4 linked regions of the Homo sapiens genome follow. The protein of the gene in region 1 binds, or shares a complex with, the protein of each later gene. Each region holds a gene or a part of one and is shown in the gene's direction. Other genes may lie near its edges. The genes, in order: KPNA4, RANBP3, RELA and NFKB1.

Region 1 (7,060 bases):
TACATAGGGGGTTTTGCCCTGAAATGTATGTCTGATTTATTCCCTAAACTTTCACCCCAGAATGAGCTTGATATCAAATCAAGAATTTATATAAATAGAAGGAACTCAGTAAACTAGAAGCAATAACGACTCAATCCACAATTTTTTTTTTTTTTTTTGTGGTGGAGCTAGCTGAGGTTTTATTTTGGACCAAAAAAAAAACCACAATTGTTTTCTAGCTGGAAGCATGGGCAAGGGGGGTCCCCAGACAGTAAACTCCCCCACGGGTGGGTTGAGCCTCAGGTGGGGGGTCTCCTGTTGTCTGTGCTTCCCCACACAGCAGCCTCCCTCCTGGAGTCTGTGGCAGCCACGGGAGGGGCAGACTAGGAGGAGCTGCCACAGTTGTTCACTTGGGCAGGAAGTCAGAGGACTCAGACACCAGCTTCCCATCGCGGGTCTCGATCTTCTTCACAACCACGGCCCTGGTGGAGCTGGTGCACCTGAAGGAGCTGAAGCCTGTGCCAGAGCCAAAGCTGGAGCCCAGGCCATAGCTGAGGTCACGAGTTGTGAGGCCCACATAGGCCGAGCTCAGATCACCTGCATAGCCGCTGGTGGTCTTCGTATGGATACTCATGTTCTGCATCCCAGACTCCAGCTGGCTCTCCTAGCTCTCCCGCAGCTTTCTGTAGGTGGCGACCTCCATTTCCAGGCCAGCTTGACTTTCATCAGCTCCTGGTACTCACACGTTGCAGAGTGGCCTCCAGCTTGGAGAGCTTGGCATTGGCATCCTTAACGGCCAGCTCCCCACGATGCTCAGCATCTGGGATGGTGGCCTCCAGGGAAGCCCCCTGGCCTTGGAGGCCCTCAATCTCAGCCTGGAGCTGGCTGATGTTCCGGTTCATCTTGGAGATCTGAGTCTTTGTATGCCGCAGGTCATCCCTGTGCTTCCTAGCCAGCGTCTGCAGCTCCACATACTTGATCTGGTACGTGCTCTCAGCCTCAGCCCGGCTGCAGTTGGCAACCTCCTTGTACTGCCTCTTTACCTCAGTGATGATGCTGTCCATGTCCAGGAGTGGCTGCTGTCCATGGACAGCACCACAGACATGTTGGAGATCTGGGACTGCAGCTCCCGGATCTCCACTTCATACAGTCGGCCCTTCCAGGTGAGACTCCAGCTCTACGTTGTTCATGTAAGTTTCATCCACATCCTTCTTGATGAGGACAAATTAATTCTCCATCTCTGTAGGCTTATTGATCTCATCCTCATACTTGTTCCTGAAGTCCTCCACCAGCCCCTGCATGTTGCCAAGCTCCGCTTCCAGCCTCAGCTTCTCCTGGCTCCAGCAGCCGCCTAAGGTTGTTGATATAGCTCCCGAACATGTTGTCCATGTTGCTCCCAGCCATCTTGTGCTGCTGCAGAAGGCTCCACTTGGTCTCCAGCACCTTGTTCTGCTGCTCCAGGAACCATACCTGGTCTGTGAAGGAGGCAAACTTGTTGTTGAGGGTCTTGATCTGCTCCTTCTCCTGGGTGTATACAGCCTGGATGTTGGAGTCCACCTCCAGGTTAAGGGGGCTCAGCAGGCTCTGGTTTACCGTGATGGTGGTGATGCCTCGCATACTGCTGGCCCCACCATAGCCTCCGCCCAGGCCACCCCAGAAGCTGCACAGTGAAGCTCCCCACTAGGGAGAAGCTCAAGGAGCTGGTGCAGGCACTGGGCCCACTAGTGTAGGGGTGGCTGCTGAAAGCCTGGGGGCCAAAGGTGGACACCTTGTAGGACTTCTGGATCACCCTGATGGACATGGTGGAGGCAGGAGTGGAGGCAGCAGGCTAAACCAGGTGGAGATTCCAGAAGGAGCAGAGAAGCTGCTTCTTGATCTCAATCCACATTTTTATCAAGAGGGGTTAGCTTGCTTTTCAATTTAAGTGGAGGCCTGTGGCATTTCTGTAATACTTAAAGGCATTTTTTCTGGTTTTCCTGACTTCTGCTTTAGGGGCATATGTTCTTGCATTTGACAAATAGTCCCTGAGTACTTATGTGCCAAGTACTATTAGGTGCTGAGTATACAGTAGTGAACAAAACAACTATGGTTCTTGACTTCAGAGAGCTTACTGTCTAGGGAGGAAGACAGATTTTAGATAAATAAAATTATAAATTGCGGTTATTTCCTATTTGTATTGCATCTTTCTCAGCTGGTAACTAATTACAACTCTTTTTTAGGAGTCTTCTGCAGAGAGAAAACTCGGGTTGTTGTTTAATCATCAGAGACACTCAGTTGTAGCTGGAGACATGAAGACATATAACAGACACGTCTATAAACTTCATCATGAAAGCTACCATGAAATGTATTCCAAGAAGTACAAAATGTTCATCTATTGATATGTTGACAAGATAACTTTTACTCATAGGGTGGGAATTCGCTGGTAATTTGTTTTCTTGAACACTGCTTATGATAAAATCCATGATGGCGCAAAATACATACATACTCCAGCTTTTCAAGTGAATTTTCTTATCCTAAACTCATTTTGAAAAACACCAGTGCTCTGGTATGCAAATACAATGTTACTTCAGTTAAATGAGTCTTTGAAGAATAACAGTTTATAATGAACATCATCATTTGTATTTAAGATCTGTTCTAAATTTATATTCAAGTTAACCTTCAGTGTGAGTTATTTCCAGGCACAGCTTCTGTTGTCCATAGCCCAGTTGATGGTATATAAAGTACTGACGACTTTAAAGGTACTACTCTGCTTCCTAAGTTTTTACCTTCCTTTCCCCCACTACAATATCCTCTCCAAAGTGATCCCTAAAGTACTCCGGCTCTTTTCATTGCCTCTCCCCCAAAGGAAACTCAGTTGTTCATATCTGTTAAACCCACTAACTTCTTCCATTTTAACTTAAAAAAAAATTCCCCTCTGTTGCCTTTAAAAGTGTTTCCTTAGGAAGATCTGCATTTTAAACACTTATCTGCACGTTGTTCTACTAAAAAAATATACTAGAAAGGACCGAGAGTCAACGATTCTGAAGGAGTTTGTATCAGGGTCTCTTCTCCCTACCTCGTCAAGTTTAAACACACCCAACGCCTCGATTCCTTGCTTCCGACCCGAGTTGCTGCTTTACATATCCCTGTACATTTGAGGTGTTATTCGTTGATATTTCAATATATTTTAAAATAATTTTCCATTTCTGTTTTGTTAAATTTTTGAATACGTTCTTTTGTATCTCGTGTCATTTCTGCCTCTGGTAACGTTGTCCTTGGTATCCTTGGAACTCATTTCCTTTCTCAACACACAATATTCCCTGTCAGCTGCCACGGGCCCCGCCCTCCAGAAGTTCATACTTTGTGGTCAAGCAGCTTCTTTAACTTTTTAAGACGAATTACCTAGGAAGTGCTATTGTCCCAGGATCACCAGCTCTGCCTAAATTCCTAACTGTTGCGGGTGCTTAGTCACAGAAGATGAATCAGATTCGTCTAATGGGCCCTTTCCTTTTCCACCCACCTTTCCTGTCGCTTTCCGCTGAGCCTCCTCAACTCACGTCATCCCAGCAGGTCCTGGCCCCCAGACCCGGCCCTGGACGGCACGGAGCCCCAGCCCGGGAACGCAGCTGCGAGCGTCCGACCGGGAGACAGCGAAGCTCAGATCTCTCTGCAAAGCGAACGGAGAGCGCAAGGAATGCCCAGGAAGACAGGGCGCGCCCGGGGAGAAAAGAACGTTACTTTAACGCAGCCTCGACCCTGAACCCCCGGCATCTAGGGCTTCCTGGACGAGTGGAGCAAAACAACTCGCCCTGCTGCGTTCCCGGGCCTCTCCTTCCCCTTGCTGGTTTCCCCTTAAGTCTACTTCTCTATTGCTTCCAACCCCTCTCTCCGAAGGCACGTGGTCCTTCCCCGCCTGCCCCCGCCGCACCCCTCCGGGCCCGGAGCCGGCTCCTCCCAGCGTCGTTCGCTTCCCCTTTCCGTTCGCTCTTTCCGCCCCGGCTCTCCATCGCCCCTTCTGATTGGTCGAACGCACCGGAGCCTGGTTAGCCAATGGGCGAGCCGGGCTGGAGGCGATGGGCGTGGCCGCAGCGCCGGGGCCCTCAGATCGAGGCTGCCTCCCCCTCTCAGCCGGCAGCACATTCCGTCGCCTTGCCGCCGCCCGGCCCCACAGTTGTCTTTGCCGGAGCTGCAGTCGCGCTGGGGTTAGGGCGGGGGGGCGGGCGGGGAGAGGAGAAGGCCGCGGCGGAGGCAGGTGAGAGGAGGAAGGAAGCGGCGGCGCGGCGGGCACAGCAGCTCAGGCGGCGGCCCGGTTCCTGGGAGTGTCGGTGCGGCGCGTTGGTTGGGGCGGATCCCGCGGGGCCCGGGCGGGGGAAGGAGTCACCGGCCCGGCCATGGCGGACAACGAGAAACTGGACAACCAACGGCTCAAGAATTTCAAGAACAAAGGCCGCGACTTGGAGGTAAACTCGGGGACGACGCCGGAGGGGTGGGGGCTGTGGGCCTGGGGCCGGTCTCCGCCGGGACCCCGAGTGTGGGGATTAGGGGCGGGAGCCGCCTCCAGGCCTCGGGGAATGGCGCTAGGGGCCGGCCCGTCTGTGACGCCTCTGCTAGCGCGCCGGGAAGTTTATGTCGGGCCTGCTCCGCCTCCGCCGGGGAGCGAGGTGCCCGGGTACGGCCGGCGCGGCCTAGGCCTGCCCGGCGGAGCCGGCCCGGCGCGGGTGCGAGGGGCCGGGCCGCGCGGCGGGGAGGCCGGGCGCGGCGCGTGCGGAGGAGGCGTGCGTGTGCGGCCGGTGCTGCCCCGGCCGGGCCGCGGCCCCTTCCCCGGCAGTGGCGGAGATTCCGGCTCTCGCTCGGGCACCGACGTCTGGCGCCGCGGGAAGGAGGGCGGTGGGAATGGGAGGGTGAGCGTGTGGCGACCGAGTGGGGCTCTGAACTTCCTCAGCGAGGCCCGAGGCGTCTCCACTTAAAGGCATTTTTTCTGGTCTTCCCGACTCCCGCTTTACCCCTGCCTCCCCCCAATATCCAAACTACAGGACAACTTCTCCGTTGAAAAAAACACCCCCGGCGTGAGAGGCCATCCTGGTGATCCTAACAGTGCCTTCCAGCGGCCTGTGTTTTACTCTGGATATAGCTGATTCAAGATGTGGCTCACGGTGTGCCCTCTTCCAGGCAAAGGATACCCCTTATTTCAGCTTGTCCACAAATCTCTTTACCCCCTCCTGAGAGGAGACCACCAGCTGCATTCTTACATATAAAGTCTAAAGGGTTATACAAAGCTGTCATCCTCTAGTCTACAGTATCCTTTCCCTCCACCTGCTGGTGGTGGTAGTGGGGGATGGGGTGGGCTAGGGAATGGCACCATCACGTTTGATTATTTAAAAAGGAAAAAAAAAGCTTCATTGTCTTAGATACAGCTGCTCCCGAGATTGTCTACATAAGGTGTATGGGTTAAATACACACATGCACACACGCATACCCACACACCCCACTGAGATTTTTGATAGAAGACTTCTTCCCTTCAGCTTTTAAGAGTTTAGATAAATAGATTTAATACTTCCCTTCTGCATCTTAATCACGAGTTTAGCTTTTAGGGAAAGTGGTCAAGCAGTATTTTTTATGTTGTTCTCGGTACGTTTTCATAATGAAATCTTCAACTTCCCATGGCATTTCTGAACTTGAGAGTCTGCTTGACTGAGATATTTTTTGGGCTTTTTACAAAGCTGTTAATATTATCTTTAAAGTAGTTCAAGCGTTTTAGTGGGTTTCATAATTTGAGGGACGACTAAGTGTCCAGGGATGTTAATTCTGTGGTTCTTTTAAGGTTAACATATTACCATTGTGATCCCTTTTTTTAATGCAAAGATGTCACATCTTTATTGAGATAATTTGCATGCCATAAAAATGAGCTTCTTAAATAACAATGATTTTTCAGTAAATTTACTTGTTTATGAAAGAATGTGGTGAAAATGTTTTTTACTAATATGAATACTTAGAATGAGAAAAAATCACAAATGATAAAACTTAAAAACTGGTAAGTACCACAAAATTACAGAATCCAGAAAAATAGCAATTAGGTGCTTGACAGATCCCTATAACCCTTTTTTCCTCTACATTTCTGGCTTCATTTTTCTGGCAGCTTCATTGAGATGTAATTCGCATGCCATACAATTCACCCACTTAAAGTGGCTTTTAGTGTATTCGCAGTTTTGCAACCATCACCACAGTCCATCTTAGAACATTTTCACGGCCCCAAAAAGAAACCTGTACTCATTAACAGTCACTCTCCAATTCCCAACTACCCCAGCCCCAGGCAACCAGTTTTTGTCTTCTTAGATTTGCCTATCCTGGACATCCCATATAAATGGAATTGTACAATTTGTGCTCTTTTTTAACTGGCTTCTTTCACATAGTGTAATGTTTTCAAGGTTTATCCGTGTTGTAACAAGAATGTATCAATGTTTCATGGCCGAATGATCCTTATGGCCGAATGATCCAATGATCCTCCAGCTCATGGATATACCACATTTTATTTATCCCTTCTTCAGTTAATGAACATTTTCATTGTTTCCACTTTTTTAGCTATTTTACATAATACTACTAAGAACATTTTTGTGTGGATGTATGTTTTATTTCTCTTGGCTATATACCTAGGAATAGAATTGCTAGATCATATGGAAACTTACTTTGAACCTTTGGTGGAATTGCCAGACTTTCTGAAGTTATCCTTATTTTTTAAATTGATGTTTCCTCCTACCTCATATCTTTTGGCACTTTAGTCAAAATCAGATTAAGTCCTGAGGCTGTATTAGAAGAATATTGTGATGTGTGACTTTTAAAAAATAAGTATATATTGACATTAGCCAGGTTTTTTTGTTTTGTTTTGTTTAGAAATTCATAGTGCCTTATGGTTGTCCTCTGATGACTTTGATATCCTTGTGCATACATTAGGGGTAGGAATATTTTCACTTCCACCTAAGGAAATAACATATGATTCTAATAGAAAGTCATACTTTGTCCACACTGTGACTTACTCAAAATCACATATGCTTGTAATGAGATAGAAACATTCTTTTTTATATTTAGAGAACAGTACAGTGGTCTA
Region 2 (3,543 bases), on another chromosome or scaffold:
TCTGCCTTCTCCTAAGGAAACCAGAGGGCAGGGCTGGCCCACTCAGGGGAGGCCAGTCAGGAGGACGTGGACTCCCATGGAGGCCGATGTCTCACACACACAGAAAGCGCATGCACCTTGAGTGTCAGCCCCTGCCTCCCGCAGCCCACCCCGTACTCCTCTCTAATCCCCCCTTCTCCAAGGGAACTGCCATCCTGGTGCCCACCTGTGTGGACCAAACACAACCTCCCACAAGCTGCATGTGGCCTCTGGTCACTGATCTGCAGCACCAGCCTGTGCAGCCACCTGCAGTTGTGGCCTTCAGTGGTCCAGGCTTGGGGAGGAGGAGCCCCGCCCCGGGAGCAGGTGTGCCAGGGCTGGCCTCAGGGAGAAGTCTTGCTCTGTGGGTGGGTCCTGGGAGGATCATGGGCTTTTGCGCGGTGATGTCGCTTTCCATCTGGACTGTGTTGGCTCTTGGAGCTGGCTGTTTGTGAGGGGGCCGGTGTGGGGGCCAGGGCTGAGTGGCCTTGTTGGTTGTAGTGATGCGGACCCAGGGGAGCCTGCGACTGATCCTCAACACCAAGCTGTGGGCCCAGATGCAGATCGACAAGGCCAGCGAGAAGAGCATTCGCATCACAGCCATGGACACCGAGGACCAGGGCGTGAAGGTCTTCCTGATCTCGGTGAGCCAGCCACGCGGGTGCATCTGGGACCCCTCATCCTGCCAGCCCTGTGGGGGTTCCTGGGCACACAGATCAGGCAGGACGGTGGGGAGGGGAGGGGGGAGGGGCTTCAGTTGCTTCCTGGGACACAAGAAGCACTATGGGACCCGCCAGTCCCAGCCTTCAGGAATAGAGATCATGGTCCTTGTCCTCTTCTCAACCCAGAGAAGCCGCTGGGGTTTGGCTGAGGGGTTGTGATGTGTTCAGGGCTAACAGCCCTGTGGGGCGGTCACCTCTCTCCTATGTCATGGTGTCACAGTCGAGTCCACCAACCCTGACCTCTGGGATATTCCCAGCCACCTGGGAGTGGTGGCATCCTTTCGGGGAGAGGCCGGCAGGCCCAGGGCCAATGGCCTCCCCACAAGGCCTTGTGGCAGTGTCACCTCTGAACCTTGGGACTTGGCACTTGTGTTCTGCAGAAGGCAGGAGGGGGTAGGACTGGGGTCCGGGGGTCTCATACCCTCCTCCCTTCCCAGGCCAGCTCCAAGGACACAGGTCAGTTGTATGCAGCCCTGCACCACCGCATCCTGGCCCTGCGCAGCCGCGTGGAGCAGGAGCAGGAGGCCAAGATGCCCGCGCCTGAGCCTGGGGCAGCCCCATCCAACGAGGAGGACGACAGCGACGATGACGATGTCCTGGCTCCTTCAGGGGCCACCGCAGCTGGTGAGTCGGGTGGTCCCTACCCTGGGGGGGATAGAAAGAGCTGCCCGCCATCCTTGATCCAGTGCTGATCTCCTGGCGGGGGTGGCCAGACCTGGGAAGTGCGGGCTCCATCCTGATGCGGGGCTGCTGCTTCCCTGCAGGTGCTGGTGACGAAGGGGACGGGCAGACGACCGGGAGCACATAGCGGCCGGGAGCCCGGCTGCACACCAGGCTGCTGCTTTGTCCGTCTATCCACCCGCCCACCCGCCCCCACCCCACCGGCAGCGTCCAGGTGCGGGGCCGGGAACCACACACCCCACTGGGCCGGCCACAGTCTGGACCCGCACGTCCTGTTCAAAAGCAGACTCGGGAACTGCCTGAATGTGGTTTGGGACACGAGACCTCATCATATTGATGAGCGAACAAACAAGAACATTTCCTCCCTCCCCTCCTTTGAATTGAAATGGCACATTAAGACTTGTCACGGCTTCTCACTGGGACTGGAGACCTCGTTCCTTCACCCCGCGTGTCGCCAGCCTCTGGGTCCAGCCAGAGCCCCTGGCTTCTCCGCCACCCACACCCTTCCCACCCTGCTGTGGGGCCCTGCCTTTGTGGGGAGCAGCCAGCCCTCTGCCCCTGCCCAGGGCTCCCCAACTATAGGCCTGGGACCCCCGCCCAGCTTGGGGGGCTGCTCGTACGAGTGTAGACACTGGGCCCATTGGACGTGCTGTTAACTACTATCTTCATTTCCCACTTCCCCTCTCTGATTGGGGGTGTATATTTTACATCTTTTTTTCTTTTTATTTTCGAAGGCTTTGTTTTGGTTTCTTAGGTTAAGATGCTCTCGAGCGTTGAGCAGGCACAGCTCTGTCGAGGTCCCTGTCCCCCACCTGTGGTTCTGGCCTCTGAGGTTGGGGGACTACTTGTTTCCCACCCCAGGTTCCTCCAGGCCAAGTCATGGGGTGATGAGGAGTTGGGGCCCTGTCTGTCCTAGGCCTGGAGAGTGCCTGTCTGGGAAAAGGTCACTGGACCTGGAAGGGTCCCCAGGGTCCCCTGACTCCCGTCTCCATCTGTCACGTGGTTCACCATCATCAGGCACCAGGCGCAAACTGCTTCCCGCTGTTGGCCATCCCTTCCCCAGCCACAGGTGTCCCTGCCCCCAGGACAGTCCAGGGCCAGGGGCTTCTGTGAGAGGCAGAGGGGGACCCTCACCAAATCTTGGTGGAAGAGCCCAGGGGCTGGTCCCAGAACAGGCAGTCTCACAAGCACGCAGCACACTGGAGTGGACGCCTGTGCCCACCCGAGCCTGGAGCATGGCCAAGAGCCAGCTTGCACCACCCACCTGGGAGGCCGAGGAGGAGGTCCCCTGGGCACAGGGCCTCTTTGGGACTTCAGAGGAAATCTCCCAGTCCCACTCTCGGAGGGTTAAGAGAAGGCCTCCTGCAGCTGTGCCGTCCACACCTCTAGGTCGCCAGAGCCCTGGCCCCCAGCCCCCAGCAAGCCTGAGCCCGGGAAGAACCAGAGGCCCTCCCGAGAGACCCAGTCACACGTCTCTGCTTTAAGCCTTAGCCAGCTAGTGACGAGTACAACGAGATAACGCCCATGTGTTTTGGAACATTTATGTAAGATTGTCATATGAAATGTATTTGGGAACTACATTAAACTTTTAACTAAAACCCTGGCCTCTGCATGCCCCAGGGGCCTCAGGAAGCCCCTGACCAGGAACGGCCTCCACCTCCCCGGGCGAGGACCTCCAGCAGCCTGGGGCCTCATGCTCCCACCCAGCGTGTCACCAGTGCTGGGGTCCAGCCACAGCCCTGTTCTCTCCACCACCACCCGCACTTTACCCCCACCCCTGCTGCAAGGCCCCGCCGGTCTGCCCCCGCCCAGAGCTCCCAGCCTCGGGCCGCTCACCAGAATGTAGATACTGGGCCCGCTGGACATGTTACCTGCTATTTTTATTCCCCATTTGCCATCTTCTGATTGGGGGTTGATGTTTTACAGATTTTTTTTTCAAAGGCTTTATTTCAGTTTCTGAGGTTAGGATGCCCCTGTGCCCCTCGCTCCACACCTGGGCAGGTCTAAACTTCCTTCCAGGATGGCCTCCACACACAGCCTCCCACCTGGGGTCACCTGGCTTCCTGGGGGACCCGCAAGGGAGGGGCAGGGAGCAGCAGTCCGGGTGCGGGGATCGGGGGAC
Region 3 (7,703 bases), on another chromosome or scaffold:
AAAAAAAAAAAAAAAGTACTAACTATTCACCGAAAACATCTACAATGACTGACTCAGTAGCAATAAGTATCCGAAGTACTCAAGCTGTAGTCTTTAAATATCATTTCCTACTAAGAGAAATCAGGACTCCTTGGAAAGCTGTCTGATTCCAGATCTGGGGCAGAAAATTTACTAGATGAGTCTAGAAATATCTTTTCAGGCCAGGCGCTGTGGCTCATGCCTGTAATCCCAGCACTGTGGGAGGCCAAGGCAGGTGGATCACCTGAGGTCAGGAGTTCGAGACCAACCTGACCAATATGGAAACCCCATCTCTACTAAAAATACAAAAATTAGCTGGGCGTGGTGGCACACTCCCATAATCCCAGCTACTTGGGAGGCTGAGGCAGGAGAATTGCTTGCACCCGGGAGGCAGAGGTTGCAGTGAGCCGAGATTGCACCATTGCACTCCAGCCTGGGCAGTAAGAGCGAAACTCCATCTCAAAAAAAAAAAAGGAAAAAGAAAAGAAATATCTTTTCATACCAAACAGCAAAGAAGCTATCACAGGCTACTGTAATTGCTTTTTTAAAATTATTTTTTTAATAGACATAGGGATCTTGCCATGTTGACCAGGCTGGTCTTAAACTCCTGGCCTCAATCAGTCTTCCCCATTCAGCCTTCCAAAGTGCTGGGATTACAGGTATGAGCCACCAAGACTCATATATTGGAATTGTGTCAAAAGGACTGAAGAACAACCAACTTGAAGAAGTTCTCCCTAACCAAAGACGAATAATTTGAATTTCAATAACTATACTTGATTAAAACACAGCTAATATATTTAAATCCATGCATTCATTAAGATTTTAAAAAACTCAGCCGGGTTTGGTAGTTCATGCCTGTAATCCTAACACTTTGGGAGGCTGAGACAGAAGGATCGCCTGAGCTCAGAGGTTCGAGACCAGCCTTGGCAACATAGCAAGATCTTGTGTCTACTAAAAATTAAAAAAAAGAAATTAGCTGAGTGTGGTGGTGCACGCTGTTAGTCCTAGCTACTTGGGAGGCTAAGGTGGGAGGATTGCTTGAGCCCAGGAGTTTGAGGCTGCAGTGAGCAACGAGTCATGCCACAGCATTCCAGCATGGCGACAGAGTGAGACCCTGCCTCAAAAAATTGTTTTCTTTTTAATTAGCTGTGTGTGGTGGTGAGTGCTTATAGTCCCAGCTACCTGGGAGGCCGAGGTAAGAGGATCCCAACTGATAGGGGCGTTGGTGGGAGAAAAAGTAGGTTTACTGATTTATTCTGAAAGCCAGCAAGACTGAGAGGACGGTGTACTAGCGTTCTAAAGTACCATTTTAAGTCAGTACAATCTTAGGCTCTTTCTATGTTAAGGGCAGGGAAGAGAAGGAGGGTGTGGTCAAGAAGTACCCCATGGCAGACATCTGGGCAGCAGCGAGGGTCTGAGGAGGTTGGGAACTTCTTTGTCCTTGGTCCAGTCACAATGCTCCTATAAATCTTTAAGAAAACATAGTTGTTTACATACTTCTTTAACCCCAGACTAAGTTTTAAAAACTACATGATTGCTGTTTTTATATATTACTCAGTGCTCTAAAGCTTATGGCAGCAAAAAATTAGAAGTCCAAATGCCCATGGCTGGGCACGGTAGCTCACGCCTGTAATAGCACTTTAGGAGGCCGAGACGGGCAGATCACCTGAGGTCAGGAGTTAGAGACCACCCTGGCCAACATGGTGAAACCCTGTCTCTACTAAAAGTACAAAATTAGTCAGATGCAGTGGTTCATGCCTGTAATCCCAACATTTTCAGAGGCTGAGGCAGGTGGATCACCTAAGGTCAGGAGTTTGAGACCAGCCTGGCCAACATGGTGAAACCCCGTCTCTACTAAAAATACAAAAAGTTAGCCAGGCATGGTGGCAGGCACCTGTAATCCCAGCTACTCAGGTGGCTGAGGCAGGAGAATCACTTGAACCTGGGAGGCAGAGGTTGCTGTGAGCCGAGATTGTGCCATTGCACACAACAAGAGCGAAACTCTGTCTCAAAAGAAAAAAAAAATACAAAATTAGCCGGGCATGGTGATGCATACCTGTAATCCTAGCTACTCAGGAGGCTAAGGCAGGAGAATCACTTGAACCTGGGAGGCAGAGGTTGCAGTGAGCCGAGATGGTGCTATTGCACTCCAGCCTGGGCCACAAGAGAGGAACTCCATCTCAAAAAAATAAAAATAAAAATGCCTATCTTCAGGATGAATAAACAAACTGTGGTATATTTACACAACAAAATAGTATACAGCAGTGAAAAAGTGAATTAACTGTGAAACATGAATCATAGTAACAGGTTGAGTGAAAAAAGCAAGTAACAAAGGACAACAAATCATATGATGCCCTCTTCATAAAAGTTCAAAACTGGCTGGGTGCGGTGGCTCACACCTGTAATCTCAGCACTTTGGGAGGCAGAGGCTGGCGAATCACCTGAGGTCAGGAGTTCGAGACCAGCCTGGCCAACATGGTGAAACCCCGTCTCTACTAAAAAAATACAAAAATTAGCTGGGCGTGGTGGTTGGCCCCTTTAATCCCAGCTACTCAGGAGGCTGAGGCAGGAGAATCGCTTGAACCTAGGAGGCAGAGGTTGCAGTAAGCAGAATGCCACTGCATTCCAGCCTGCGCGACAGAGTGAGACTTTGTCTCAAAAAAAAAAAAAAAAAAGTTCAAAACTAAGGAAAACCAAAAGATATATTGTGTAGGCATGCAGATATAACTTTTTTTTTCTTTAAAATACAGAATTCTGGGCCAGGTGTGGTGGCTCATGCCTGTAATCCCACTTTGGGAGGCTGAGGTGGGAGGATCGCTTGAGCCCAGGAGTTTGAGACCAGCCTGGGCAACACAGTGAGACCCATCTCTATTTACAATAAATTAATTAATTAATTAATTTAAAAAATACAGAATTCTGGCCCAGCGTGGTGGCTCACGCCTGTAATCCCAGCACTTTGTGAGGCCAAGCGGGGAGGAAAGTTGAGCTCAGGAGTTCAAGACTAGCCTGGACAACAAGGTTAAACCACTTCTTTACAAAAAATACAAAAACTTAGCCGGGCATGGTGGTGTGCTCCCGTAGTCCCAGCTATGCAAGAGGCTGAAGTGGGAGGATTGCTTGAGCCCAGGAGGTAGAGGCTGCAGTGAGCAGAGATTGTGCCACTGCACTCCAGCCTGGGCGACAGAGACAGACCGTGTCTCAAAAAATAAATAAATAAATAAATACAATACAATACAATACAATACAATACAATACAATACAATACAATACAGAATTCTGGATGGTGGTGGCCCCTTGAGTTTTGCAATGGGTACATGGGTGTTTATCGTATTAATTTAAAAGTTATAAATATACATGAATTTTAAGAAGAGGATCCATGCAAGGTTCAATGATAATTGTATATCATTAACCAAAGATTTTAATTAATCCATTCTGTCACCTGAAGTCGGCCTCCCCCGCCCCCTGCCAAAAGTAAACACTTTTCTAATCAGGGCCAGCCACTGGAGAAACTGAAATGAGTGGGCGGGGTGCTAACTCTATTTTCACTTTTCTCTTCCTGTTTCTTCAGAGCCTGGGAAACAAGTCAGAATTTCCAATCTTTTCCAATTCCCACATGATTTCCTAATTTAAGACGAATTCAGAGAAAATAAAAAAGTCTTTCTCCATCTGGAGAAGACTCCGCCCCCTGCAGTGGAGCATCCTCCTTTGGGGATGAGGCCTGGGGTGGGGGTGCGTCAGCCCCAGCCTCCACACGGACGCGCCTTGGGCTTGGTCTTGGGGGAGCTACCTGCACTGTGGGGTCACATGACAGAATTAGTGGTCAGCCCTAGCTGGAGGTCCAGGGCAAACACAGGCGGGGGCAGGGGGGTGGGGGGTCGTGAGCCTGCTGATTCAAGTGTCCCTGTGGGTCCCGCACCTTCTGAGACACAAGCGCCAGGCTTCAGAGACGAGGCTCCGGGATTTACCCCTGGGGGCCTCCTGCTCCCACAGCCGATGAGAGCCGGCAGTTTGGCTGTATCGTAAGCTGGCGCTTTAGCTGGAGAGGGACGAGCCCTCGGCCAGCTCGCCAGCGGGAGGGCCTCAGTCGTCCCATCCGGGCTGTAGGCTCCGCAAAGCTCTTGATGCACTGTCAGGCTGGGAGGTCCGGCCGCTCCCATTCCCCCACAGCCGCATCTAGATTGGGGTGGGTAGGACATTTTAACGTGCTTCTGAGACAGCCACCACCGAAAGGCACCTTTAGCGGTTAGGAAACCCGCGCGGAGTTCAACCACCCGGCCTCTGCGGAGCAGAAGGCCCGGTCGGGCTTTTCCCTGCGCGGGGCGGGCGGCCGCAGCCCAGTAGCCCTGGCTTTGCTCCAGACCCGGCCCAGAGTGACATCACCAAACTCCGCCGATCGGCGGGAGGGGGCCCTGAAATCCCCTAAAAACAAAGTGAGTAATCGGCGGACCCACCCTCCAGGCGGGGCCGGGACCCGGGAGCTAGCCGAGCCACCGGGCACGCCAGCCTCTTCGTCCTCGGCGAGGCGCGCACTTGGCCCCGACCCCCGGCAGCGGCTGTGCGTGCAGCCTCTTCGTCCTCCGCGCGGCGTGCACTTGCTCCCGGCCCCTGCGCCGGGCGGCGGCGGGGCAGCGCGCAGGCGCGGCCGGATTCCGGGCAGTGACGCGACGGCGGGCCGCGCGGCGCATTTCCGCCTCTGGCGAATGGCTCGTCTGTAGTGCACGCCGCGGGCCCAGCTGCGACCCCGGCCCCGCCCCCGGGACCCCGGCCATGGACGGTGAGGTCGCCCTCTGACCCCGCGGGGTGGCATCGCCGGGGCCGCCGCGGCTGTGGCGGGAGCCCCCGCGCCGCTTTCCGCCCCTTCCTGCGCCGACGGGCGCTGCGCAGGGAGCGGTCGGCCTGCCGGATGGTGGCGCGGGGCGGGGCAGGCGGGGAGGGGTCTGACTCAGTTTCCCCTCTGGGTGGAGGGGGTGGCCCTTGACTCAGCATCCTCCCTGGGTGGGGGAGCAGAGGGAACCTTGACTCAGTTTCCCTCCACACCGTCCATGGGGGCAGCTCTGGCTTCGTTTCCCTATTAGGGGAGAACGCATCTGATTCAGTTTCCTCTCTGGAGGGAGGTGGGGCGTGCCCTCCCTCAATTTTCCTTAAGAAAGTACAACAGGCCCTGATTCAGCTTCCCTCTGGAGAAGAAGGATTCCTTACCCCGTTTTCCCTCAAGAAGCAGGTGTTTCTGGTTCCTTTCCTCCACCCCTTAGTTTCACCGCAGGTTCTAGGGAGCAGGTCCTGACTCAGTTCCCCTGGGAGGGAGCCTGGCTTCTCCTCTCCGTGGAGAGCAGATTCCTCCTTGTGAGAATGGGCATTGGGTGTGTGCTGACCCTGATCTCCCTCCCCTTTCAGAACTGTTCCCCCTCATCTTCCCGGCAGGTAAGTGGCCCCCGCGGCGGTCGGGGAGGTGCTCCCTGGGGTAGGGCAGTGGGGGCAGCCGCCTAATGGGGCTGCGGTGTCCCCTGGCAGAGCCAGCCCAGGCCTCTGGCCCCTATGTGGAGATCATTGAGCAGCCCAAGCAGCGGGGCATGCGCTTCCGCTACAAGTGCGAGGGGCGCTCCGCGGGCAGCATCCCAGGCGAGAGGAGCACAGATACCACCAAGACCCACCCCACCATCAAGGTCAGCACTGCGCCAGGGTGTGCGGGGAAGGGACTGTGGAACCCCAGCCCTCTGTGTTTGGGAGTCAGGTTTGGATGTCTGGGCCTCTGTACTTTGGACAGATCAATGGCTACACAGGACCAGGGACAGTGCGCATCTCCCTGGTCACCAAGGACCCTCCTCACCGGCCTCACCCCCACGAGCTTGTAGGAAAGGACTGCCGGGATGGCTTCTATGAGGCTGAGCTCTGCCCGGACCGCTGCATCCACAGGTGAGGTCCCTGCAGGCTAGGAGGCCCAGCATGAGGGGACAGGAGGCGGGCTATGAAGTAGCCGCTACAGTGTTACTCCTTTCTGGACCCAGGGCAGAATTCCTCACTCCTTGCCCTGACTCAGCTCTGCAAGTAAACTGCCTTTGTCTTGAAATTATCTATTTGTACGTTTACTCTAGCAGATGAGTTCCAGGGGATACGGATGGGTCCCTAATCACTTCTGAATTCCTGACCCCTGTAGCTGGAAGGACAAGTCCCTCAGAGTCACGTCTCTTGTTTGAGGAAGAAAACCATTGAACCAGCACTCTCCCCTGGAGTTGACATTGCAGTTGACAGAGACAGGCTGTAAAAAAATATACAGGCCGGGCATAGTGGCTCATGCTTATAATCCTAGCACTTCGGGAGGCCAAGGCAGGAAGATCTCTTGAGCCTAGGAATTCAAGACTAGCCAAGGCAACATAGTGAGACCCCATGTCTACAAAAAATAAGAAATTAGCTGGGTATGGTGGCATGCGCCTATAGTCCCAGGGAGGCTGAGGTGGGAGGATCGCCTGAGCCCAGGAGGTCACTGCTGCGGCAAGCTATGATTGCACCACTGCACTTGGGTGGCAGGGCGATACCTTGTCTTTTTTTTTTTTTTTTTTTTTTTAAGAAAGAGTCTTGCTCTGTCCCCAGACTGGAGTGCAGTGGCGCGATCTCAGCTCACTGCAACCTCCACCTTCCGGGTTCATGCCATTCTCCTGCCTCAGCTTCCCGAATAGCTGGGACTACAGGTGCCTGCCACCACGCCTGGCTAATTTTTTGTATTTTTTAGTAGAGACAGGGTTTCACCGTGTTAGCCAGGATGGTCTCAATCTCCTGACCTTGTGATCTGCCTGTCTTGGCCTCCCAAAGTGCTGGGATTACAGGCTTGAGCCACCGCACCCGGCCCGACACTGTGTCTCTTAAAAATAAATAAATACACAGATAAATAAACAAGGTGCTGTCAGAGTAACAGTTTCAGTCCTGAAAATAAAACGAGGTCATAGGATAGAAGGATAACCTGGGGTGGGGGAGTTAGGGGAGCTGGTGTGTGATGACTTTAGATTGGGAGGTCAGGGAAGGCCTCCCTCAGCTAAGACTTGAATGGTGAGAAGGAGGAGAGAAGTAGGAAAAGAACATTCCAAGCCGACCAAACAAGTGCAAAGGCCTTGAGGTGGGAATGAGTGTCCTGTGTTTAGAGAGTGGAAAAGGAGCCCCGGTGGCTGTAAGCAGGGAGCCCACAGGGAGGCTGGCAGGGGCAGGGGCACGGAGGTGCTTGTCAGCTGAGTGAAGGGACAGGGTTCGTTGCAGCACAGTAGGAAGCCACTGGAGAGGGTTAGGCATGGAGCGATGATCTAGGGGTGGGCAGAGTAGGAAGGAGCAGGCTGGGCAAGGCAGGAAGGTCTGGGCTCTGTGAGAGACAGTGGGACAGACGACTGGGGGCGCTCAGTTTCCAGAACCTGGGAATCCAGTGTGTGAAGAAGCGGGACCTGGAGCAGGCTATCAGTCAGCGCATCCAGACCAACAACAACCCCTTCCAAGGTGAGGGCAAACCTGCCTGCCACACCCGCACCCTCTGTCACCCTCCCCAGCCCGCCTTTCCTGCATCTCCCTCACTGGCCAAGACACAGTAAAGCTGGAATCTTGGTGCCCATTCAGTACTCTCCCACTTTACCACTGGGAAACTGAGTCCCAGGAGGGGACATGACATTCAGGCCACAGTGGAGTCAGTGCTGGGTTCTGCCTCCTCT
Region 4 (6,934 bases), on another chromosome or scaffold:
ACTAATGTTTTAGAAACACTCTCCTGACAACTATCGCATCTTTGCAGTTGTTTCCATTTCCAACGCCATGTCTCTCTGAGCAGCAGCCTTGAGTTTTCAATTGCATATTTATTAGTCATTTCCATATGGACATCTCACTAAATCTGTCATACTAAACATGTCTAAAATATGTATGTTTACATGTTACATGTATGTTTGGTATGTGGGAATGCATTACATTCCCACAGATTTTTTCCCAGTTACAGTGTTACTATTCTAATCACTCAGACTAGAACACTCAGAGCTATCTATGAGTCTTCCTCTCACTCAAACTGCATATATAATCTATAAACAGGTCCTGTTGACCTCATCTTCTAAAAATCTCTTACATGCTCCTTTTTATATCATTGGATAATAGTTTAGTGTGGTGGTTAATATCATGCACACTGGAGCCAAATCTGTTAGGTTCAAATCCTGACTCTCCTTCTATTTACTAATTATGAAACCTTAGGAAAATTATTCAACTTTTCATCTGTAAATATGGGGATTATAATGGTGATCCACTTTATATGACTGACAACCAAATAAGTGAATACGTGTATAGCAGGTATTAACCATATGCTTAGCCGACCTATTTCAACCTCCTAACCAACCAGAAGAACTGTAGTTCCCTGCTCTCTTGCATCTAAGTGGGGCCATGGAATGTGGGCAGAAGTGTTGTGTCACCTTTACTCAGAGGCAATTAAAAAGAAGACATACTTTTCCTATGTTCTCATTGCCAATGAACACACTACACAGATCTCAACCTCAGAATTCTCTCCACACTGGTATTTCCAAAATAGCTTCATGAGAAGGGAAATTTGTGTAGTTTCAATGATTTAGTGATGCTATGGTTTGGGTATTTGTCTCCTCTAAACCTCATGTTGAAATGTGACCCCAATTTTGGAGGTGGGGCCTAATGGGAGATGTTTCGGTCATGGAGGTGGATCCCTCACAAATAGATTGATGCTATTCCCTGCAAGGAGGAGAGGATGAGTGAGTTCTCACTGCATTAGTTCCTATGAGAGCTGGTTGCTAAAAAGTTTGGCATCTCTCCCCTCTCTCTCGCCATACGATCTCTCTGCACACACCACCCGCCTTTGCCTTCCATTGAGTGGAAGCAGCCTGAGGCCCTCACCAGACGCATATGCTGGTGCCATGCTTCTTGTACAGTCTGAAGACTGTGAGCCTAATAAACCTCTTTTCATTATAAGCTACCTAGTCTTGTGTATTCTGCCATAGCAACACAAATGAACTAAGACAAGTGACAAACACAAAATAACTTGTCTTTTAGACAATATTGATGTCTGAAATTCCACATTGAGGCATTTTTTTCCTCTTCGTAGCCTGATAATGGCAAATACCTTCTGACACCTTAGGATGGATGAATTTGTAAGAGATATTCCTGGAAGCAGGTTTGTACAGTGTAGAGAAAATGTTGGGTAACAAAGCAGGAATGGAGGAGGGTTAATCAGCAAGCCAAAAAGCTTTTATAGTTTTGCCTGCTGTGCTGCATGGAATTACATCCCCCCAAAACATATGTTCAAGTCCTAACCACAGGTACCTGTGAACATGAGTTTATTTGGAACTAGGATCTTTGCAAATGTTATCAAGTTAAGATGAGGTAATACTGGATTGGGGTGGGCTCTAAATCCAATGACTGGTGTCTTCATAAAAGAAAGGTGAGGGAGAGTTGAATATAGCGACACAAAGGAAACACGGGGAAGGAGACCATGTGACAATGTAGGCACAGAATGGAGTGTTGCAGCCAAGCCAAGAATGGCAAGGATTGCTGGAGCTACCAGAAGCTAGGAGGAGGCAAAGGATTCTTCCCTAGAGCCTTCAGAGGGATCATGGCCTTAATGGCACCTTGAGTTCAGAATTTTAGGCTCCAGGACTGTGACAGAATAAATTCCCGTTGTAAGCTGTTCAGTCGGTGGTAAATTTTTACAGCAGCCCCAGGAAAATATGCCTGCTCAACACCCTACCCTGAATTTTAAGTTCATTTTATGGAATCATTTTGAGTTTGGAGTTTGATTTAATCCTTTTCAGTAATTAACGCTCTTCATTTTTTACTCCCAAATATGTCACACTGGCTCTACTCTTATAACAATTGTATTTATCTATCTTTTGGTAATGGGGCTGCCACCCCTTGCAGAATGAAAAGTAGAGTGTGTATGCTCACACCTCCCTCCCTCCCTCCCTCTCTCCCTCCCTCTCTCTTTCTTTCTTTCTCAGAGTATCGCTCTGTCTCGCCCAGGCTGGAGTGCAGTGGCGCAATCTTGGCTCACTGCAACCTCTGCCTCCAGGGTTCAAGCGATTCTCCTGCCTCAGCCTCTGGAGTAGCTGGGATTACAGGCGCCCGCCACCACGCCCGGCTAATTTTTTTGTATTGTTAGTAGAGATGGGGTTTCACCATATTGGTCAGGCTGGTCTCAAACTCCTGACCTCAGGGGATCCACCCGCCTTGGCCTCCCAAAGTGCTGGGATTACAGGTGTGAGCCACCGCACCCGGCTCACAGAATTTCTTAAAAAGTCATTGTGTTCAGTCTTTATGGATCCTCTAAATTCCAGCTGCTCAGCCTCCCGGAGCTAAATGAGATCACTTAAAGGTCGACTGTTGGGGCCTCCAAGGTCGCCTCGGAGACTCACCTCATAGGCAATCAAATGGATCGCTGGGTTTTTGTGTGTGTGGGTTTTTTTTGTTTATTTTTTTTTTCCAGAAAAACACTCCACCAAGAAGGTTTTTATAACCTACTGGAGGAGGAGGATGGAGAGTGGGCACGAAAGGACTAGGATGAACATGCCATAAGCAATCTAAATGCCACTGCAATATTGCCTGGTGAGGACCTGATTACTGATGTTTTAAAGCTAAGCTTTCAGTTGTCACTCCACCCAGTAGTGAAACAATGAGCTCTAAAATATATATTTCGGCTCAAGCTTTCTTATGTGGGGAGGTAATCCACCCGAAGGTATCCCCAGCCTGTACCTAATACAGTGCCCAGCACTAAAGCAGCTCAGATGCCAGTGAATGGTGGCCACTGGGAGGCCTGTCAGTGGGTGCCAGTAGCGGTCTCTTCAGAGAAAAAGAAAACTCCCCTCTGCCAGATCAGTATTTTATGAGCTGTGAACCAAAACCATTGCTACCACCATCACTATAATTCTATCCACAGTAATTATCATAAAGGCCTAACAATGCCTTGTAGATGAACATTCTGAGTAACTGCTCTATAACCAGGAGATTTAAGACCGCACCAAAAACCAGTAGAGGGTTATACTTTACTGGGCACAAGTCGTTTATGATAACGAAATTGTAGTTTAATCTGTGAAGAGATGTGAATGTAACTGAGACACGCTTAAATGGAATATACAGATGAGCTTTATTTTTATATCTGGCATGCTTGGATCCATGCCGACCCTCCAGCTGCTCGGGCCTGCCCTTAGGGGCTATGGACCGCATGACTCTATCAGCGGCACTGCCACCGCCGCCGCCTCCGTGCTGCCTGCGTTCCCCGACCATTGATTGGGCCCGGCAGGCGCTTCCTGGGGGCTTCCCTACCGGCTCCAGCCCTTGGGATTCGGGAGCGCCCTGCTAGGAAGCCAGAGCCCCGCAGGGGCCGCGGCGTCCAGGCCGCCTAACGCGCGCCCCTCGCCCGGCGCCCCGAAGCGGCCCCGAGGGGCGGGAGCCGAGGCGAGCGGCAAGGCCGGGCCGGGGGCGCACAGCGCCCCTAGAAGTGCGGGCTTCCCCCACCCCCGGCAGCGACCCTACCTCCCGCCCCCGCTGCGTGCGCGCGTGTGTCCGTCTGTCTGTATGCTCTCTCGACGTCAGTGGGAATTTCCAGCCAGGAAGTGAGAGAGTGAGCGAGACAGAAAGAGAGAGAAGTGCACCAGCGAGCCGGGGCAGGAAGAGGAGGTTTCGCCACCGGAGCGGCCCGGCGACGCGCTGACAGCTTCCCCTGCCCTTCCCGTCGGTCGGGCCGCCAGCCGCCGCAGCCCTCGGCCTGCACGCAGCCACCGGCCCCGCTCCCGGAGCCCAGCGCCGCCGAGGCCGCAGCCGCCCGGCCAGTAAGGCGGCGCCGCCGCCCGGCCACCGCGCGCCCTGCGCTTCCCTCCGCCCGCGCTGCGGCCATGGCGCGGCGCTGACTGGCCTGGCCCGGCCCCGCCGCGCTCCCGCTCGCCCCGACCCGCACTCGGGCCCGCCCGGGCTCCGGCCTGCCGCCGCCTCTTCCTTCTCCAGCCGGCAGGCCCGCGCCGCTTAGGAGGGAGAGCCCACCCGCGCCAGGAGGCCGAACGCGGACTCGCCACCCGGGTAAGCCAAACTCGGGCGAGTGGGGGCCCGGCAGGGGACGCGTGGCCCAAGTCCTGCCGCCCAGCCCTCCGCACCCCCTCCAGCCCCACTCGGACTTCCTCATTCCTGCGCTAACCGCTGGGCTAGACCGTGGGAGGAGGTTGACAGTAGCTGAGAGGCACATGGGATTAGCGACAGCGGGGAAAGACACATCCGGACCTCGCAGGGGCTAGTCGGCCGAAGGGCCGCGGCCGCCCGGCGGTCATTTCTCTTCACGTCCCTCCGCGGGGCGGGAACGCGAACCGGAGGGGAACTCTTACAAACTTTTAAAATCCCCAACCCCAGCCCCACCTGGGGGATGGTGAGAAGGTTGGAGTGCGCTGCGGCGCGGAGGAGAGAGGGAAGGTGGTTGGTGCAGTGCAGAACCAGATTTCACCTAAGGGCGTTCCATGAAATGAAAGCAGAAGTGCTTGTCAGTCCTCTTGGCTGGGAAAGCCCTCCCCAGCTCCCCAGAATTGAATAGGAGAGTCTATTCATCCCTCTCCTACTTCTAAAAGAAACCTGGCTCGCTCTCTGTCTCTCTCTCTCTCCCCCCTCCCCCCCTCCGTGCGCGCGCGCGCGCGCACACACACACACACACACACACACACACACACACACGATATAGTCACCTGCTATAGGACTTGATTCTGATCCTCCGGGGCCTGGCATTTGAGAGAGAAAATAAATTACCTACCTGGATACTTAGAGCACTTTTTAGACTTGATTATGTAAAACTCTTGGACAGTGCCACCATGCATTATGCATGACCGCTGAAACAAAAATAATGTAAAAACAAGGCCTATCCTAAATGCAAGTTTTTCTATGGTCCTTAAAAACAGACACCAGGGAATGTTTGCCCTGACTTGCTGGTTTATCCTGAAACTCAAATGGGACTTAATGATACAGGATTTAATTATCAAGATTGACATGTTCATGGACTTTGTTAAGTAGAGGTTTTCAGCATTACAGTTTATGAAATAACCATATTTAACTCAAAGATTTTTTTATAAAGCTCATAATCTGAAAAAATGCTTATGGTATTACTAAAACATTTAATAGCTCTGGCATCAAAATATTCTACATACTGGTGATCTTTTAGTAAATAGTAAAGGTTAGGGTCAAGATATTCAATAATTTTTTTCTAGCAGAATCCCACAACTGAATATTGTCAAGCAGTTTAAACTGCATTCGTGTTTGTTAAAACTTTAAAAGGGAAACTTAAAACTAAAGTATGTTGTTTTTCTGATTTTAATATTGTGCTTTCTAGAGATGAATCCTTTTACTGTTTGAGGCACTATAGGAATTATGTATTTAAATGTATGTATTTAAATTTGAAGCAATGTACTTTTTTGAGTTTATAAACTTGGGAAGACAGGAAATAAAAAGATTTGTTTCCTGTAGAATTTTACATTCATGATTTAATTGAATTGCTAAAATGGAAAGAACATGTACGATTAATGGAGACTTGGAATCTGAGATTATTCATCCATATTGATACACCTGCAATTCCTAAATGCCCTCCCCTGCTTGTTTAGATAAAATGTCTTCCTGGGCTGCAGCCTACTGGACAAACTTGAACACAAAGGAACACACGTTATATGTACATTTAATACTGGAACCGAAAAGCTGCTTGCAGTGAAAAGCAAACCACTTCTAAACTCTTTGAGACTTTTTAAAGAAGGTAGTATAATCCTTTTAGGGGTTGGTGGTGATGTGAAAATCTATTATCTTTTTGCTGAAATTTCATTCTTATGTTAGGCATTGGCACTCACTTGTGCTGAGTAAATGCCCGTGTTTTTCAAACCCAGATAGTAAATACTGGGGGTATACATACAAAAATAGTCCTTCCCCTTTGTAAGCATTGCTTTGATCTTTGCACTTCCTTTTTACTCTACCTCTTAAACAAGATCTGTGTTGATTGAGTTGATTAAAGCACAATTAATCTGAAATAGGCAGAATTTTAGATTTAGTGATTATATTCCTTACATTTCTGTTGTTACTGTTCCTGGAAACAAATTGAAGTAGTTTGAGAAACTAATATTTATGCAGGTTGTTTTAACTACACTTTTAGACTTGCAGATAATTGATTAAGTAAGTTACTACCTTGACTTTCAGGGATTGCTCATTGTGGTAGATACGAGGTCTAGATAGGGAATTGGCAGCTACATGAATGTTGGACTATCATTCCATCAGCAAGACCTTATTTTTACCTAATTTATGAGAGGTATTTCTCTGTTCAGAAGAGGTGAAAGTTCTGGCTTCTGGGGGGAAGTGGTTACTTCATAACCTTCAATTGGTTTGAACTTGGGAGAAGTAAGAAAAGTAGTCGATATTTTCAAACAGTAAAATAATTGTATCTGAGTTGCTGTATGGATTTTTGATGAAGTACTCAAAATGTCATCTTTTGCATCTTCGGGTCTTAGTAGATGTGCTATTCTGAGTATAGAATTGACTGCAGTAGGAAGTGTATCTGGAAATGCACAGTACTGTTGTATAACCAATAGAGTAAATTCTCAGATTATGCTCTTCTGGTCCACAGATTGATCAGAAATCACATTAACAGGAATGGATGTCTATGCAAAATTT

Evidence for each region.
Region 2: the proteins of KPNA4 (region 1) and RANBP3 are in contact, whole or in part, in a crystal structure (PDB 5XZX), measured with the Homo sapiens proteins. Residues at the interface, in NP_002259.1 of Homo sapiens: Arg96, Leu99, Ser100, Asp102, Arg103, Pro105, Phe133, Trp137, Thr140, Asn141, Ala143, Ser144, Gly145, Thr146, Ser147, Thr150, Glu175, Gln176, Trp179, Gly182, Asn183, Gly186, Asp187, Asn219, Trp222, Val225, Asn226, Arg229, Asp261, Trp264; in NP_015561.1 of Homo sapiens: Asn114, Tyr115, Cys116, Pro117, Pro118, Val119, Lys120, Arg121, Glu122, Arg123, Thr124, Ser125, Leu127.
Region 3: the proteins of KPNA4 (region 1) and RELA are in contact, whole or in part, in a crystal structure (PDB 7LF4), measured with the Homo sapiens proteins. Residues at the interface, in NP_002259.1 of Homo sapiens: Lys231, Asp271, Arg306, Asn310, Val312, Thr313, Gly314, Thr315, Asp316, Thr319, Lys344, Glu345, Trp348, Ser351, Asn352, Ala355, Glu387, Trp390; in NP_068810.3 of Homo sapiens: Lys301, Arg302, Lys303, Arg304, Thr305, Tyr306, Glu307, Phe309.
Region 4: the proteins of KPNA4 (region 1) and NFKB1 are in contact, whole or in part, in a crystal structure (PDB 7LFC), measured with the Homo sapiens proteins. Residues at the interface, in NP_002259.1 of Homo sapiens: Arg96, Lys97, Leu99, Ser100, Ser101, Asp102, Arg103, Pro105, Phe133, Trp137, Thr140, Asn141, Ala143, Ser144, Gly145, Thr146, Ser147, Thr150, Gln176, Trp179, Gly182, Asn183, Gly186, Asp187, Asn219, Trp222, Val225, Asn226, Arg229, His230; in NP_001158884.1 of Homo sapiens: Glu357, Glu358, Val359, Gln360, Arg361, Lys362, Arg363, Gln364, Lys365, Leu366, Met367.

Annotation. Positions count from the first base shown.
Region 1 is NC_000003.12:160,562,572-160,569,631, reverse strand, and holds the start of KPNA4 (importin subunit alpha-3), read left to right. Parts: upstream 1-4,060; 5' UTR 4,061-4,349; coding exon 4,350-4,418; intron 4,419-7,060. UniProt on the Homo sapiens protein: Functions in nuclear protein import as an adapter protein for nuclear receptor KPNB1. Binds specifically and directly to substrates containing either a simple or bipartite NLS motif.
Region 2 is NC_000019.10:5,915,615-5,919,157, reverse strand, and holds the end of RANBP3 (ran-binding protein 3), read left to right. Parts: intron 1-519; coding exon 520-662; intron 663-1,177; coding exon 1,178-1,364; intron 1,365-1,504; coding exon 1,505-1,548; 3' UTR 1,549-3,019; downstream 3,020-3,543. UniProt on the Homo sapiens protein: Acts as a cofactor for XPO1/CRM1-mediated nuclear export, perhaps as export complex scaffolding protein. Bound to XPO1/CRM1, stabilizes the XPO1/CRM1-cargo interaction. In the absence of Ran-bound GTP prevents binding of XPO1/CRM1 to the nuclear pore complex.
Region 3 is NC_000011.10:65,659,915-65,667,617, reverse strand, and holds the start of RELA (transcription factor p65), read left to right. Parts: upstream 1-4,701; 5' UTR 4,702-4,785; coding exon 4,786-4,792; intron 4,793-5,040; exon of another isoform or gene 5,041-5,239; intron 5,240-5,270; exon of another isoform or gene 5,271-5,412; coding exon 5,413-5,439; intron 5,440-5,529; coding exon 5,530-5,681; intron 5,682-5,749; coding exon of another isoform or gene 5,750-5,782; coding exon 5,783-5,931; intron 5,932-7,402; coding exon 7,403-7,494; intron 7,495-7,703. UniProt on the Homo sapiens protein: NF-kappa-B is a pleiotropic transcription factor present in almost all cell types and is the endpoint of a series of signal transduction events that are initiated by a vast array of stimuli related to many biological processes such as inflammation, immunity, differentiation, cell growth, tumorigenesis and apoptosis.
Region 4 is NC_000004.12:102,497,462-102,504,395, forward strand, and holds the start of NFKB1 (nuclear factor NF-kappa-B p105 subunit), read left to right. Parts: upstream 1-3,897; 5' UTR 3,898-4,327; intron 4,328-4,472; exon of another isoform or gene 4,473-4,711; intron 4,712-4,977; exon of another isoform or gene 4,978-5,025; intron 5,026-6,934.